4 linked regions of the Homo sapiens genome follow. The protein of the gene in region 1 purifies or fractionates together with the protein of each later gene. This does not show direct contact. Each region holds a gene or a part of one and is shown in the gene's direction. Other genes may lie near its edges.

What was found.
Region 2: the proteins of ZC3H13 (region 1) and NUP93 fractionate together in Homo sapiens (co-fractionation; one large-scale study listed by BioGRID). This does not show direct contact.
Region 3: the proteins of ZC3H13 (region 1) and MED13 purify together in Homo sapiens (affinity purification with mass spectrometry, with the first as the bait; one study listed by BioGRID). This does not show direct contact.
Region 4: the proteins of ZC3H13 (region 1) and ZFP91 fractionate together in Homo sapiens (co-fractionation; one large-scale study listed by BioGRID). This does not show direct contact.

Annotation. Positions count from the first base shown.
Region 1 is NC_000013.11:45,965,747-45,969,246, reverse strand, and holds part of ZC3H13 (zinc finger CCCH domain-containing protein 13), read left to right. Parts: coding exon 1-499; intron 500-1,218; coding exon 1,219-1,743; intron 1,744-3,500. UniProt on the Homo sapiens protein: Associated component of the WMM complex, a complex that mediates N6-methyladenosine (m6A) methylation of RNAs, a modification that plays a role in the efficiency of mRNA splicing and RNA processing.
Region 2 is NC_000016.10:56,733,129-56,736,628, forward strand, and holds part of NUP93 (nuclear pore complex protein Nup93), read left to right. Parts: intron 1-3,500. UniProt on the Homo sapiens protein: Plays a role in the nuclear pore complex (NPC) assembly and/or maintenance. May anchor nucleoporins, but not NUP153 and TPR, to the NPC. During renal development, regulates podocyte migration and proliferation through SMAD4 signaling.
Region 3 is NC_000017.11:61,967,779-61,971,278, reverse strand, and holds part of MED13 (mediator of RNA polymerase II transcription subunit 13), read left to right. Parts: intron 1-3,020; coding exon 3,021-3,244; intron 3,245-3,500. UniProt on the Homo sapiens protein: Component of the Mediator complex, a coactivator involved in the regulated transcription of nearly all RNA polymerase II-dependent genes.
Region 4 is NC_000011.10:58,606,563-58,610,062, forward strand, and holds part of ZFP91 (E3 ubiquitin-protein ligase ZFP91), read left to right. Parts: intron 1-3,267; coding exon 3,268-3,477; intron 3,478-3,500. UniProt on the Homo sapiens protein: Atypical E3 ubiquitin-protein ligase that mediates 'Lys-63'-linked ubiquitination of MAP3K14/NIK, leading to stabilize and activate MAP3K14/NIK. It thereby acts as an activator of the non-canonical NF-kappa-B2/NFKB2 pathway.

The DNA of each region.
Region 1 (3,500 bases):
CTTCTTCCTCCTCCACCGCCTGTGGCTACTGCCACTGCTACAACTGTGCCTGCAACTCTTGCTGCCACTACTGCTGCTGCCGCCACCTCTTTCAGCACATCTGCCATCACTATTTCCACCTCTGCCACCCCCACCAATACCACCAATAATACTTTTGCCAATGAAGACTCACACAGAAAATGCCACAGAACACGAGTAGAAAAAGTAGAGACGCCTCACGTGACTATAGAAGATGCACAGCATCGCAAGCCTATGGATCAAAAGAGGAGCAGCAGCCTCGGGAGCAATCGGAGTAACCGTAGTCATACGTCTGGTCGTCTTCGCTCCCCATCCAATGATTCAGCCCATCGAAGTGGAGATGACCAAAGTGGTCGAAAGAGAGTACTGCACAGTGGCTCAAGAGATAGAGAAAAAACAAAAAGCCTGGAAATCACAGGAGAGAGAAAATCTAGGATTGATCAGTTAAAGCGTGGAGAACCCAGTCGAAGTACTTCTTCAGGTAATAAAATTGAATTGTGATCTAGTCACTGTTTCCTAGGTTAGTATATTTTATACACATTTTAATTCTAAAGTAATGCTAAATTGGTTACTTTACATGCTGCCTTAAATTTTATGCAACTTTTTAAAGAAAAGTTTAGCTGCCCTATCAAAATGTTACCTGTTATCACATTAATACCAACATTATAATAGAAATACATACAGTAGTGTTAATCAGTTTAATATCAGGATTTTAGTAGTATGTCTTGGTGGAAGGGTTTATGTGTTCAAGTCCCTTATTGATGCCTATGATTTTAACCTTCCTGCTATTCTTCATGCAGTCAAGGCTGCCTCTTTTGACCACAGAAAATAAGATAGGGGAGTAGGAGGAGATCAAATAATGGAGTGATTAGTTCTATTAATGCCTAATCATTTTATGTACTTCTTGGAAGATATTTTATGGTTATAGTGGAAATAGACAAGGAAACTTTTTTTTTTATTTATTAGAACTTTGAGAGAGGAATTTTTCTTAAAATGATTTATATATTTGGATATTTATAGAGAGAAATGTATATGTAGAATATAGAAATATATAGAACATATAGAGACAATATGGAACATAGAAAGTTACATAGAATATGGAAAAAGGTAAATTATGTTTTAAAGGACCTTGAAATGAAGCATTTTGTTTCTATTTTATCATGTGCTAATAACTCTTTATATATGGTATATTTATTTTAGATCGCCAGGATTCAAGAAGCCATAGTTCAAGAAGAAGTTCTCCAGAGTCAGATCGACAGGTCCATTCAAGATCTGGGTCATTTGATAGCAGAGACAGGCTTCAAGAACGAGATCGATATGAACACGACAGAGAGCGCGAGAGAGAGAGGAGAGATACGAGGCAGAGAGAATGGGACCGAGATGCTGATAAAGATTGGCCACGCAACAGGGATCGAGATAGATTGCGAGAACGAGAACGAGAGAGAGAACGAGACAAAAGGAGAGACTTGGATAGGGAAAGAGAGAGACTAATTTCTGATTCTGTTGAAAGGGACAGGGACAGAGACAGAGACAGAACTTTTGAGAGTTCTCAAATAGAGTCTGTGAAACGCTGTGAAGCAAAACTGGAAGGTGAACATGAAAGGGATCTAGAAAGCACTTCCCGAGACTCTCTAGCCTTGGATAAAGAGAGAATGGATAAAGATCTGGGATCTGTGCAGGGATTTGAAGAAACAAATAAATCCGAGAGAACTGAGAGTCTGGAAGGTGAGTGCTACCTCTGTTGTCTGTGATACTGCTTTATTTCTTTTCAGATTTCGTGGGAAACAACTATTTTCTTTTGAAAGGGCACCCACTAATGGGCAAATTGACTCCATTCTCCATTCTTCTATAGAGGAAGTAGATTTCAGAAGGAAAAGGCCTGTAAGATAGAGATATATATATTTTTTTAATGTGGTCCCCTTAGCAGTACCATTAAGGCAGATTTGGTTCACATAAACCTAAATGAAATAAAAGATTGTTTAGATGCAGTGTGTATAGATGTTGAAGAATAACCATCACATCCTTTTCTTAGATGTTAAAAAAATAAGATTACAAAAATTGAAATGACTTCTTAGTTCAGAGAGGGATTCAAATAATTATTAGTGAATCCCTATTTTCTAGGGCAGTTGAGAACAAATATATGAAACAATAACACTACCTAAAACTGTATTTAATGTAGGATTGACTAGAATCCCACTGGTACTCCCTAGTCCTAGAATAGGAATGCTAAGTCCGCATCAACTCAGAGCCAGCCTCAGCTATGTGAAACCTCACTCTCCATGCTTCTGTTCTTTACCCTTCAGCCCCCATTTACTAGACAAGCTGACTCATGCCTTTCCATTCTCTGCCCTTCTTTGTACCCACTCATACCATTTCCTGATAGACCTTTTTCTTTTATCTCATCTTTCTTACTCAAAATTCAAGTCCCAATTTATACATTATTTTCTCGATGAAGCCTTCTCTGCTCGAGGCACTTACTGTTTCAAATTCATCTCTTCACATTACATTTTCATCTCAATTTTGAGTATAAATAGCATCAAATCATAAAGCATGGTTCTGATGGAGGTACAACCCTGGGATATAATTGAATATAATTGAATTAATCATTATAATAGCTCTCTTGTGATTGGAGTCAGTATCCCTCATCTCTAAAATATATAATTTGCTGGTTATGATCACAGATAATATAGAATAGAAATGTATAGGTGAATCACTTGCTATGTGATGTAAAGTTTTTACTCAAAGTAGGAAAATGAGTTGGATCAACTTGAAAAGTTGAAAATCCTATTATGTGCATTTATGTTTAGATGTATGTTTATATGACAAAGTTACTAAAATTGGTTACATTAGAAGTGACTTAGTGAGGATATGGGGAGATTATTATAGAATTTAATAACATGGAAAATCACTAGAATGACTAGAAACATCTCATAACTTCTTATATTTTATTTGCTGCAAATTCATACCCATAAAGCATATGGTTACATTTTGAAACTTAGTATTGTAGATTCAGTGAAATGTATGGTTAGCTAGTGATTGTAAACGTTAAGTGTATTCTGTAATTTTAGGATTAAGTTCACAACTAACTCACCAAGAGACAAAGTTTAGCATAGGTGGTTGAAAAAAGTTGGTAAAATAAAAAAATAGAACATACACTAGTGGAACTAACAAAGTTATTTTTAATTGTATTAAAGCATTTTTCTAAAAATTGTGTTCATCAATGCAAGAAGATCATTGAGATAGGGAGGAGGAATTGAGATGTTGAGAGAGAATTAGACACTTCTTGTATTTTTACCTCACTGTTGTAAAGTTTATATAATGAGCTAAATAATATGAACTAAGATTTAAGCTTCGAGTAAATTTTTTAAATGTTTGCAAGTTTTTAAATTACTTTGTTTAGATAAATTGTGAAAATTTGAAAATATAACTTCAAAATCTTTTGAAGTTAGATTTGTCTGAGTTTTAAAGTTTTAAATTATCAA
Region 2 (3,500 bases), on another chromosome or scaffold:
CCCCAAAGAATAGAGAATTGCTAGGGTATATAATTGGGGGAAGGCAGCGAGGGATGAGGATAGTAAGGGTGGCAGTGTCTGTTCTATGGAGAGCACCCTTTATAGCTCTGTCAAAACATGAGCATCTTATTCTGTAGGGGATGGAAGGTGTCCCTGATGGACTTAAGGCAGGAAAGCATTTCAGAAAGACCTCCCTGACCATGGGGAGGTTGATTGGAGGAACAAGAAGGCTTAGTCGGCGTGCAAGTCAGAGAAGGGGCGAGAGATGAGGGTATGACTTTGCAAAAGGTTTGAGAAGTAGAGCTTGAGATTGGCTGAGTGTTGAGGAGGTGAAAGGGGCGCTGGGGTGACTTGAAGGTGGTTCCTGGCTTACCTGACTGTGTGCTAATTGTTTTACGAAAAGAGACTGGGAACCCACGAGAAGGAAGCATTGGTGGTGGCAGTGGCTAAGGAGAGAGAAGTGATGAGTCTGATTTGGGACATGTGTAGTTTGAGGCACCCATGAGTCATCCAGGTGTAGGTATTAGGTGGACAGTTGGAAATACTGGCTTGGGAAAAGAGTTGGGCTGGACATAGAGATATGAGAATCCCCTTTGTTTTGATAGATTAGAGTCCTCCTAGCTCACTTATTTGCCTTGTATTAATGTCTGTTAATACCTCCATCTCTTCTCCCCTGAATAACATAACGTTTGAAATATTTTATAGCTTTATACTTTTTTATAGCTTCAACTGTGTCCTCAAACAGCTAGATCCCCCATACACAGTTGCTAAAAGCCAGAAGAAACTTTCTCAAACCTTGCCAAAAATTCCTACATTGATCTGTTAGGTACACCAAAGTTATAGTCTTCTCTTCCTTCCTTCATTCATTTAACACATATTTATTGAGCATTAGGTGCTGTTGTTCAGTGTACTGGGAATGGGGCTGTGGACAGACCAGACAAGGTTCCCAGACTCAAGGAGCCTGTTAGGAGACAGACAATAAATGAACAAACAGGTAGGCATGTGATGCCAGAAATTGATAACATACTACCAACGAGGTAAAACAGAAATGTGGTAGAGTGGACGGTGGGGCTGCTTTAGCTGGGGTGTGCTGAGAAGCTTCTTTAAAAAGGAAACCTTTGAGCAGAGATTTGAAGGAATTAAGGGGGTTAGCTAGGTAGGTATTTTGGAGGAGAATATTCCTGCAGATGCAGAGGAAACAGTGACTGAAAGCCCAAGTCAGCAGTGTATTTAGCATATTTGAAGAAGAGTGGAAGGCCATAGGACCAAAGTACATAATCCTGGGGAAGAGTGGTAACAGAAGGAGTTGGGTCGGGGACAGTCATGTAGGCCTCACAGCACAGGGTAAGGACTTTGGATCTCAGCCTGTGAGTGACGGGGGCTATTGAAGGTTTGAGCCCCTTTAGAGGATCCTTCCCAGTGTGGTGTGGAGAACAGACTGGGAAGTGGGAGGGGACAAAGTAAGAACAGGGAGACAGGAAGCTACTATATCACCCAGATGTGACACATGAGAGTGGCTTGCACCAGGATGATAGTGGTAGAAGAGACAAAAAGTGGGTCTGACTCATGTATATATGAATAAATGTAGTGTAGAAATGAATTGCTAATGTAGGGTATAAGAGGAGAAAAGAAGTCAAGGACAATGCCACGGTTTTAGACCTGAGCAACTTCTAGCATGAAGATACTATTTACTGAAATGAGGAAGATGGGGAAGGTCCAAGTCTTTGTTAGATGCTAGAATACGGCCTTCCTCCCCCTAACCCCTCCCACTCCATGCACCCTACTGTCTGTGCCCATCTCTATCTTTCTGACACGGCTGTTGCCCTGCTGAAAAACCTGTGTACCAGTTGGTCCCTTTGGACACCAGAGGTCTGCTGTGAGGATGACATTAGATTATACAAATAAAGCCCATAGTGGGGACTCATACACAGACAGAGCTCAGGAGATGATGTCGGGCAAATAAATGAATGGAGTAAAAGGAATTTAGATGAGGGAAACTTTCTGTAGGTAATGTGTATTGAGGAAGACCATTTGGTAGGTAGGACTTGAGTTGGTGGTAATAATGATAGCTAATGTTTATTGAGTGGTTACTTTGTGACAGGTGAGGGAGATGCAGTTATTTTTCCATTTCACAGATGAGGCCCAGAGAGAGTAATTAATTTGCCCAAAGTCATCGAGCTAAAGAGTGAAGGAGCTGGCTGGAGCTCAGGGCTGCAGTGGAAGGTTGGGTAGGTGTTTCTTTTTGGGAAAAATGGCACAGAGCAGGACATGTGCAAGGATAGTCAGGGACCAAGTAAATCAAGTGACTGGTACACAAGGTTTATTCTGGGAGGTAGAAAGTTAAAAGCAGTGACTCACCTGGATGGATCCCTGTGAATGGGAGCCAGTGAGGTTTTTTGAGCAGGGGCAACAGCCGTGTCAGAAAGAGAGATGGGGTCGGGCGCAGTGGCCCTCGCCTGTATTCCTAGCACTTTGGGAGGCCAAGGCGAGCGGATCACTTGAGGTCAGGAGTTCGAGACCAGCGTGGCAAACATGGTGAAACCCCAAAAATTAGCTGGGCATGGTGGTGCGTGCCTGTTATCCCAGTTACTCGGGAGGCTGAGGCAGGAGAATCGCTTGAACCTGGGAGGTGGAAGTTGCAGTGAGCTGAGATCTCATCATTGCACTCCAGCCTGGGGGACAAAAGTGAAACTCCGTCTCAAAAAAAAAAAAAAAGGAAGCTAGAGGTGGCCACAGAGAGTAGGGTGCATAGAGTTGGGGGCAGGGCTAGGAGGAGGAAGCCCATGTTCTAGCATGTAAGAAGGACTTAGACTTAAAGGAATGAAGGTCTGGCCTTAGGTGGTAGTGATGGGGATGAAAGCAATAGTTAGAGGATGTTGCAAAAATATAAATACCCCATGCTATTTAAATCTGTTTAGGAGCTGGGTGCAGTGGCTCACGCCTGTAAGGCCAGCACTTTGGGAGGCTGAGGCAGGCAGATCACCTGAGGTCAGGAGTTCAAGACCAGCCTAGCCAACATGGTGAAACACCATCTCTACTAAAAATACAAAAATTACCCTGGCGTGATGGCACGTGCCTGTAATCCCAGCTACCCAGGAGACTGAGTCAGCAGGAGAATTGCTTGAAACCGGGAGGTGGAGGTTGCAGTGAGCTGAGATCACGCTATTGCACTCCAGCCTGGGCAACAAAGCGAGATTCCATCTCAAAAATAAATAAATAAATAATCTGTTTCGGTAATGAGAGTTTGGAGAGTGAGGAATATCATGTTATCTGAGTCTGTAGTATTTCGTTTCCTGAGTTTTAGTTAGAGAGTAGCAATAGTTTGGATAATGAGGAATACCTGCCTGCTTGCTATGGAAAAATGTATCTACATGTGTTTGGTTTCTGAGTCTGAGAGTGGAGGGACACCTGTAAGTAAACAATCTGAGGTAACACAGAGATGCAAAGGAACAGGGTGAGTTAGAACCTGGGAGACAGAAGCCAGGGGCAGAGGCGGAGGA
Region 3 (3,500 bases), on another chromosome or scaffold:
AAAGTAGATATTTATTTATTTATTTCTGTACCTTAACTGATTTTGGAGATCATTTCTATCTGCACATATAGAGATTATCTTTTTTTATGGCTATATGTATTCCATTGTTCCTTACATATGATAATATATTTTACCAGTGCAGTGTTTATGAACATACAAATTGTTACCACCATTATCATTACAGCTACTTTTCAGTAATGCACAGATCCCTGGCTTTAAAGCATGGGTGTATTTTTATTTTATTTATTATTATTATTTTTGAGATTTGTTCTGTCACCCTGGCTGGAGTACAGTGGCACAATCATGGCTCACTGCAGCCATAACCTCCTGGGTCCAAGTGATCCTCTCACCTCAGCCTGCCAAGTAGCTGGTACTACAGGTGCTCACCACCACACCCAGCTAATTTTTGTATATTTTGTAGAGATGAGGTTTTGCCATGTTGCCCAGGCTGGTCTCCAACTCCTGGGCCCTAGTGATCTGCCCAACTCACCCTCCCAAAGGGCTAGGATTATAAGCACCCAGACGTGTATTTCAAGAAAAAAAAAAAAAAAACCTAAATAACTATCTGTAATGCCTTTTTTTTTTTTTTTTTTTTTTTTGAGACAGTCTCACTCTCTTGCCCAGACTGGAGTGCAGTGGCATGATCTTAGCTCACTGCACCCTCTGCCTCCCAGGTTCAAGCAGTTCTCATGCATCAGCCTCACGAGTAGCTGGGATTACAGGCATGCATTAACCACACCTGGCTAATTTTTGTATTTTTACTAGAGATGGGATTTTGCCATCTTGCCCAGTCTGTTCTTGAACTGCTTGCCTCAAGTGATCCACCTACCTAGGCCTCCCAAAGTGCTGAGATTACAGGCGTGAGCCACCATGCCCAGCCCCTGTAATATCAGTTTGAATTCCCACCAGTTAAAGTGCCTGTTTTCCCAAAGCCTTGCCTAGTAGGATGCTGATTCAGTGGATGAAAAATGGTTATTTCCCATTATAGTTTGAGAGATTAAATAGTACAGACTGTGGGGATAGATTTCTTGGGTTTAAATTCCTACTCTGCTACTTCTTGTGAAATGCTAGAGAAATTGCTTAACTTCCTCATTTATGTTTTCTCATCTCTAAAATGAAGTTAATAATAGTTTCTGCCTTATGTTTTTTGTGAGGATTAAATGAGTTAGTACATGCAAAGAGCTTTGAACAGTACCTAGCACATAGAATTATCATTGTTTGCTATTATTAATTTTAAATTGCTTTTTTAATGAGAAAGAGCATCTTTTTATGTGTTAGAGATAGTTTTGTTTTGTAATCTCCATGTTCTTAACCCATTTTTCTATTAGGTTGTTGGTCATTTTCTTTTAAAAATTTTTTTATTATGGTAAGAACACTCACCAGGCATGACGACTCACGCCTGTAATCCCAGCACTTTGGGAGGCCGAGGTGGGCAGATCACTTGAGGTCAGGAGTTTGAAACCAGCCTGGCCAACATGGTGAAACCCCATCTCTACCAAAAATTCAAAAATTATCCCGGTATGGTGATGTGTGCCTATAATCCCAGCTACTCAGGAGGCTGAGGTGAGATAATTGCTTGAACCCAGGAGGTGGAGGTTGGAGTGAGTGGAGATCGCACCACTGCACTGCAGCCTAGGCAACAGAGCAAGACTGTCTCAAAAACAAAACAAAAAAAAACTAAAAGAAAGAACACTTAACATGAGATCTGCGCTCTTAGTAAGGTTTTTTCTTTTTTCTATTTTTTAAATTATATTATTTTTAAATGTATAAATAAGGATGGTGTCTCACTATGTTGCCTAGGCCTCAAACTCCTGGGCTCAAGTAATCCTCCCACCTCAGTCTCCCAAGGTGCTGAGATTACAGGCATGAGCCACAGCACCTGGCCTACAGTGTATTTTTATGCCAATTTTTTGTTTGTTTGTTTTTGAGATGGAGTTTTGCTCTTTTTGCCTGGGCTGACGTGCACTGGTGCAATCTCAGCTCACCGCAACCTCCACCCCCTGGGTTCAAGCAATTCTGCTTCAGCCTCCTGAGTAGCTGGGATTACAGGCATGCACCACCATGCCCGGCTAATTTTGTATTTTTAATAGAGACAGGCTTTCTCCATGTTGGTCAGGCTGGTCTTAAACTCCCAGCCTCAGGTGATCTGCCCACCTCGGCCTCCCAAAGTGCTGAAATTACAGGTGTGAGCCACTGCACCCAGCCCCATGCCAAAAATTTAAATGCAGACCAGACGTGGTGGCTCCTGCACGTAATCCCAGCACTTTGGGAGGCTGAGGAAGGAGGATCACTTGAGCTCAGGAGTTTGAGTCCACCCTGGGCAACACAGCAAGATCCCATCTCTACAAAAACTTTAAAAATTAGCTAAGCATAGTGGCACACACCTGTAGTCCCAGCTATTCGGGAAGCTGAGGACAGAGGATTGCTTGAGCCCAGCAGGTTAATGCTGCAGTAAGGCGTGATTGTTCCACTGCAGTCTAATCTGGGCAATAGAGCAAGACCCTGTCTCAAAAAAATAAGTAAATAAAAAGACTTGTTTAGGAAATTCCTTAATGTTGAAAAGTCTTGACCACTGGCATTAAGTATTTTTGTCTCTAATAAAATATTTTCACTAATAATGACTTCATTAACTTTTGACATTTAAATAAAAAGGAGGCCGGGCATGGTGGCTCACACCTGTAATCCCAGCACTTTGGGAGGCCGAGGTGGGCGGACACAAGGTCAGGAGCTCGAGACCATCCTGGCTAACACGGTGAAACCTCGTCTCTACTAAAAAATACAAAAAATTAGCCAGGCGTGGTGGCAGGCACTTGCAGTCCCAGCTACTCAGGAGGCTGAGGCAGGAAAATGGCGTGAACGCGGGAGGCGGAGCTTGCAGTGAGCCGAGATGGCGCCACTGCACTCCAGTCTGGGCGACAGAGCGAGACTCTGTCTCAAAAAATAAATAAATAAATAAATAAATAAAAAGGAGACATGTCTTGTTTTTAAGTGTTTTCTTAAAATACATCTTTCTTATTTAGGAACTGATGAATCCCCAGAACCACTGCCAATCCCCACATTTTTGTTGGGTTATGATTATGATTATCTGGTGCTTTCTCCATTTGCTCTTCCTTATTGGGAGAGACTTATGCTGGAACCCTATGGATCTCAAAGAGATATAGCCTATGTTGTACTGTGTCCAGAAAATGAAGCCTTGTTAAATGGAGCAAAAAGCTTTTTTAGAGATCTTACTGCAATATATGAGGTAGGTGTTTAAAAAGAGATGACATTTTAAAACTACCTTACGATTTGTATTGTTGTATATACAGCATACTGGGCAGTTCAGTTGATTGGGACACAGTGATGATGTCAGATTAGATGTTTATTTCTCATACTAGCCAGTTACATTCTTTGCTGAGTTTGACCCAGTCTGTTAGATGTGTATGCCGTGGGTCAGAGTGGCTATCCCCCTATAGGAGGAAGAAACATTGAGGGCATATAGATATATATCCCTTTTAATG
Region 4 (3,500 bases), on another chromosome or scaffold:
TATGATATGAAATTTAGGATACAAATGATCCCATCATGCAGGTACTGAGCATAGTACCCAATAGTTTTTCAACCTCCCCCCAATAATCTCCAGTTTCTGTTGTTGCCATCTTTATGTCCATGAGTACCTAATGTTTAGCTCCTACTTTGGTCTCTGTGGTCTCTAAAGGTTCTGGTCCTTTCGCTTATATTCATCAAGTGATTTGACAGATTTCCTTAAACATCTTTACTCACCTTTTTCTTGATTCAGTGCTCACTTGGCTTTTATAACCTTTAACTATTGTTAAGAGTTTCCACAAAGTTGATTCTGACAGTGTTTGTTCATGATATGTGTTTATTTCTGTGGAGGGACATTTTTGCTGTCATCTCTGACAGAGTGGTTTTTTTTTAAGACTAGATTTTTAGGGGACGGGAGCAGTAGTATTCAATAAGATAGGCTATTATGCCTTATTCATAATGGTAAACTATTGTTATCAAATTGGCATCATTTATCCAGTGAGTAAAATCTACAGTATAGGAGGTTGTGGGCATACCATCCTTTCATCATGAAGAAGAAAGGAGCTTTGTTGAGGACAGGAGGTTATGGAGTGAGTTCAAAGTCCAACTCGGTACAGTTGGGTTAAGGAAAAAAAAGATGTGTCTATTATTAAATGTTGTAATACTTCATAGGTGGTGTTGAATTGTTCTTTTTGATGAAATTGTTTTAAAAGTAGTCATGACCTATATGTAAAAGTCCTTCATTATTAATCTCAAAATATGATTTCTAAATCTAGGTGTCCTTAGCTAACCTTGTGATTTTGAATAAGCTTCTTTTTTGGGCTTCCAGATACTTTATGGGTAAAACGTAATGGATTGTGCTTAGACTGAATGGCCTTTGAGGTATTTTCACCTATATTAATGTTTTATTTTTTATTTTTTCTATTAAAATAGCTCAGATAGGAGGGTGATGCAATAATGAATGGAAAAAGACAGCTGAAAGGAAATGCACAACTGATTTTGATGGTTGTTTAGAACTGTTCGCACTGCTATTTATCTCTGTGTTTCAAACTAATTTCATTACTTCAGTATATTGTCATAAAACTTTCAGTGTAATTAAAGCTAAAATAGCCTATAGTCACCACATTGCTCCATAGTAAACTATTTTTTAATGTTAAGCAAAAATGTTGCCATACTGTATATATAGTTTTGTGTCTTTTTTATACATTTAACAATATTTTTGCTGATAATTCCATGTCATTTTTAACATAAACCTACCTCTATATAGTATTCAATCATACTAAGGTATCATGGTTTATTTAAGCACTTTATCTTTGACAGAGGGTTAGGTTGTTTCTGTTCTTTGCTATTATAAACATAATACAGTTAACCTCCATGTGGTAGTTTATATTTCTAGGGCATATACTTAAAGGTGAAATTACTACACATATTTTTGGACCTACCTTGGAAGTAACCAGTACTTAAGAATTTCTTGTACTTCTTCCAGAAATGTTATTATAGTATGTAAGATATATATATATACACACACACACACATACTGTAATGACTAATGTGTAGCACTGTTTTTAAGTAGTAGAAGAGTAGACAACTAAACATTCAAAGGGGGATTGGTTTCATAAGTTATATATTTGTGTGTATATATATCTTACATATATATCTCTCTCTTACATATGTACACAATTATTTGTGAAACCAATCCCTCTTTGAATGTTGTTTTCTACTCTTCTACTACTTAAAAACAGTGCTATATGTTAATCATTTATAAATATGATTGTAATTTTGTAGGATAAATTTCTAGTAGTTGAACATCATGTGGAAAGGTATATACATTTATAATTTTGATGTATATTGTCAAATTGGTCTGCATGGAGGTTTTGCTAATACATTATCATATGTGTGTTAGAGGACCTGTTTTCCCACAGTCTTGACAATACATTATGTTGTCAAATATGATCATCCCCAATATGATACATGAAAAATGGTGTCATGCTATCGTTTTCATTTGAGTCTCTTGTTCTGAGTGGATTGAGCTTTGAGCTTTTGTTTTTTGTTTTTTCTTTTTTTGGAATGGAGTCTTGCTCTTTCGCCGAGGCTGGAGTGCAGTGGCGCAGTCTCAGCTCACTGCAACCTCCACCTCCCGGGTTCAAGTGATTCTCCTGCCTCAGCCTCCCCAGTAGCTGGGATTGCAGTTAGGCACCACGACGCCTGGCTACCTTTTGTATTTTTGGTAGAGACGGGGTTTCACCACGTTGGCCAGGCTGGTCACAAACGCCTGACCTTTTGATCTGCCCGCCTTGGCCACTCAAAGTGCTGGGATTACAGGTGTGAGCCACTGAGCCCGGCCTGTTAGTTCCTATTTTTCTATTGGGTTATTAGACTTTGTTTATGGTTGATTTTTGCCATGAGGAAAATTGTTTTTATGTGTATCTTATGACCTGAAATTTTGTTTTATTATTGGGCCTTTCCCGTTCTGAGTTTATTAAAGAATCTTCTATTGTTAAAATGGGCTCAATTCTAATGTACTTTTTTTTTATATAGGTCTAAGTATTTAGCTACGCCAGGTATGAAAGCCAGTTTCTGAGATTAACTTTTTATTACTTACTACTCAAGAGAGGATGACCTACCGTACTTCACCCTTAAAACATGACAAAATATAGGATAACAATAACAGATTTGTGTGTGCTCCTGTACACAATGTCTTATAGGACAACTGAAACAGAATAGCACCAGAGCTGGACTTTACCATTCAATTGCTCTATAGATTAGTTCAAATTTATGGTGTGGTTCCAAGAAAAACTCTTGATTAGAGTGAAAAGTACTCCTGTTAGGAATTCCTCTTTAGTAATTTGTTATAGACTTGTTTGGTTGTAAATAACATCTAGATCTATGGTTCTTTCTTTTTGGTGCCTCTGTAGTTCTGGTCATCTTTTTGGGACTAATTAATTTAGTTTCTTTTAACTTAGATCTAAAAGGTAGAATTTCATGAATCCAGTTACTTAAGTGTATTTTGCATAGTTAGCATTGCATTTTTTAGAAGATAAGGCAGTATAAAATTACTACTTTGCAACATGAAGTAATTTCTTTAGCATGATGACATTAAGGATAAGTTTTATCTCATTTTCCTTTTTTTATTATTTCAATTAAAGTCTTCAGTTTTTTTTCCTTTGAAAATATTTAATTTATCTTCAACTGTATTTACAATTAGTAGATATACAGGGATGGTTATTGGTTAACTGTAAACTTAAAGAGAATGGTATGTCTTTTTATTTAGATCCCAAGGAAGAAAAAGAGGAAGAAGACGATTCTGCCCTCCCTCAGGAAGTTTCCATTGCTGCATCTAGACCTAGCCGGGGCTGGCGTAGTAGTAGGACATCTGTTTCTCGCCATCGTGATACAGAGAACACCCGAAGCTCTCGGTCCAAGACCGGTTCATTGCAGCTCATTTGCAAGTCAGAACCAAATACAGACCAACTTGATTATGGTACAGTGCAACTAGAATATGGC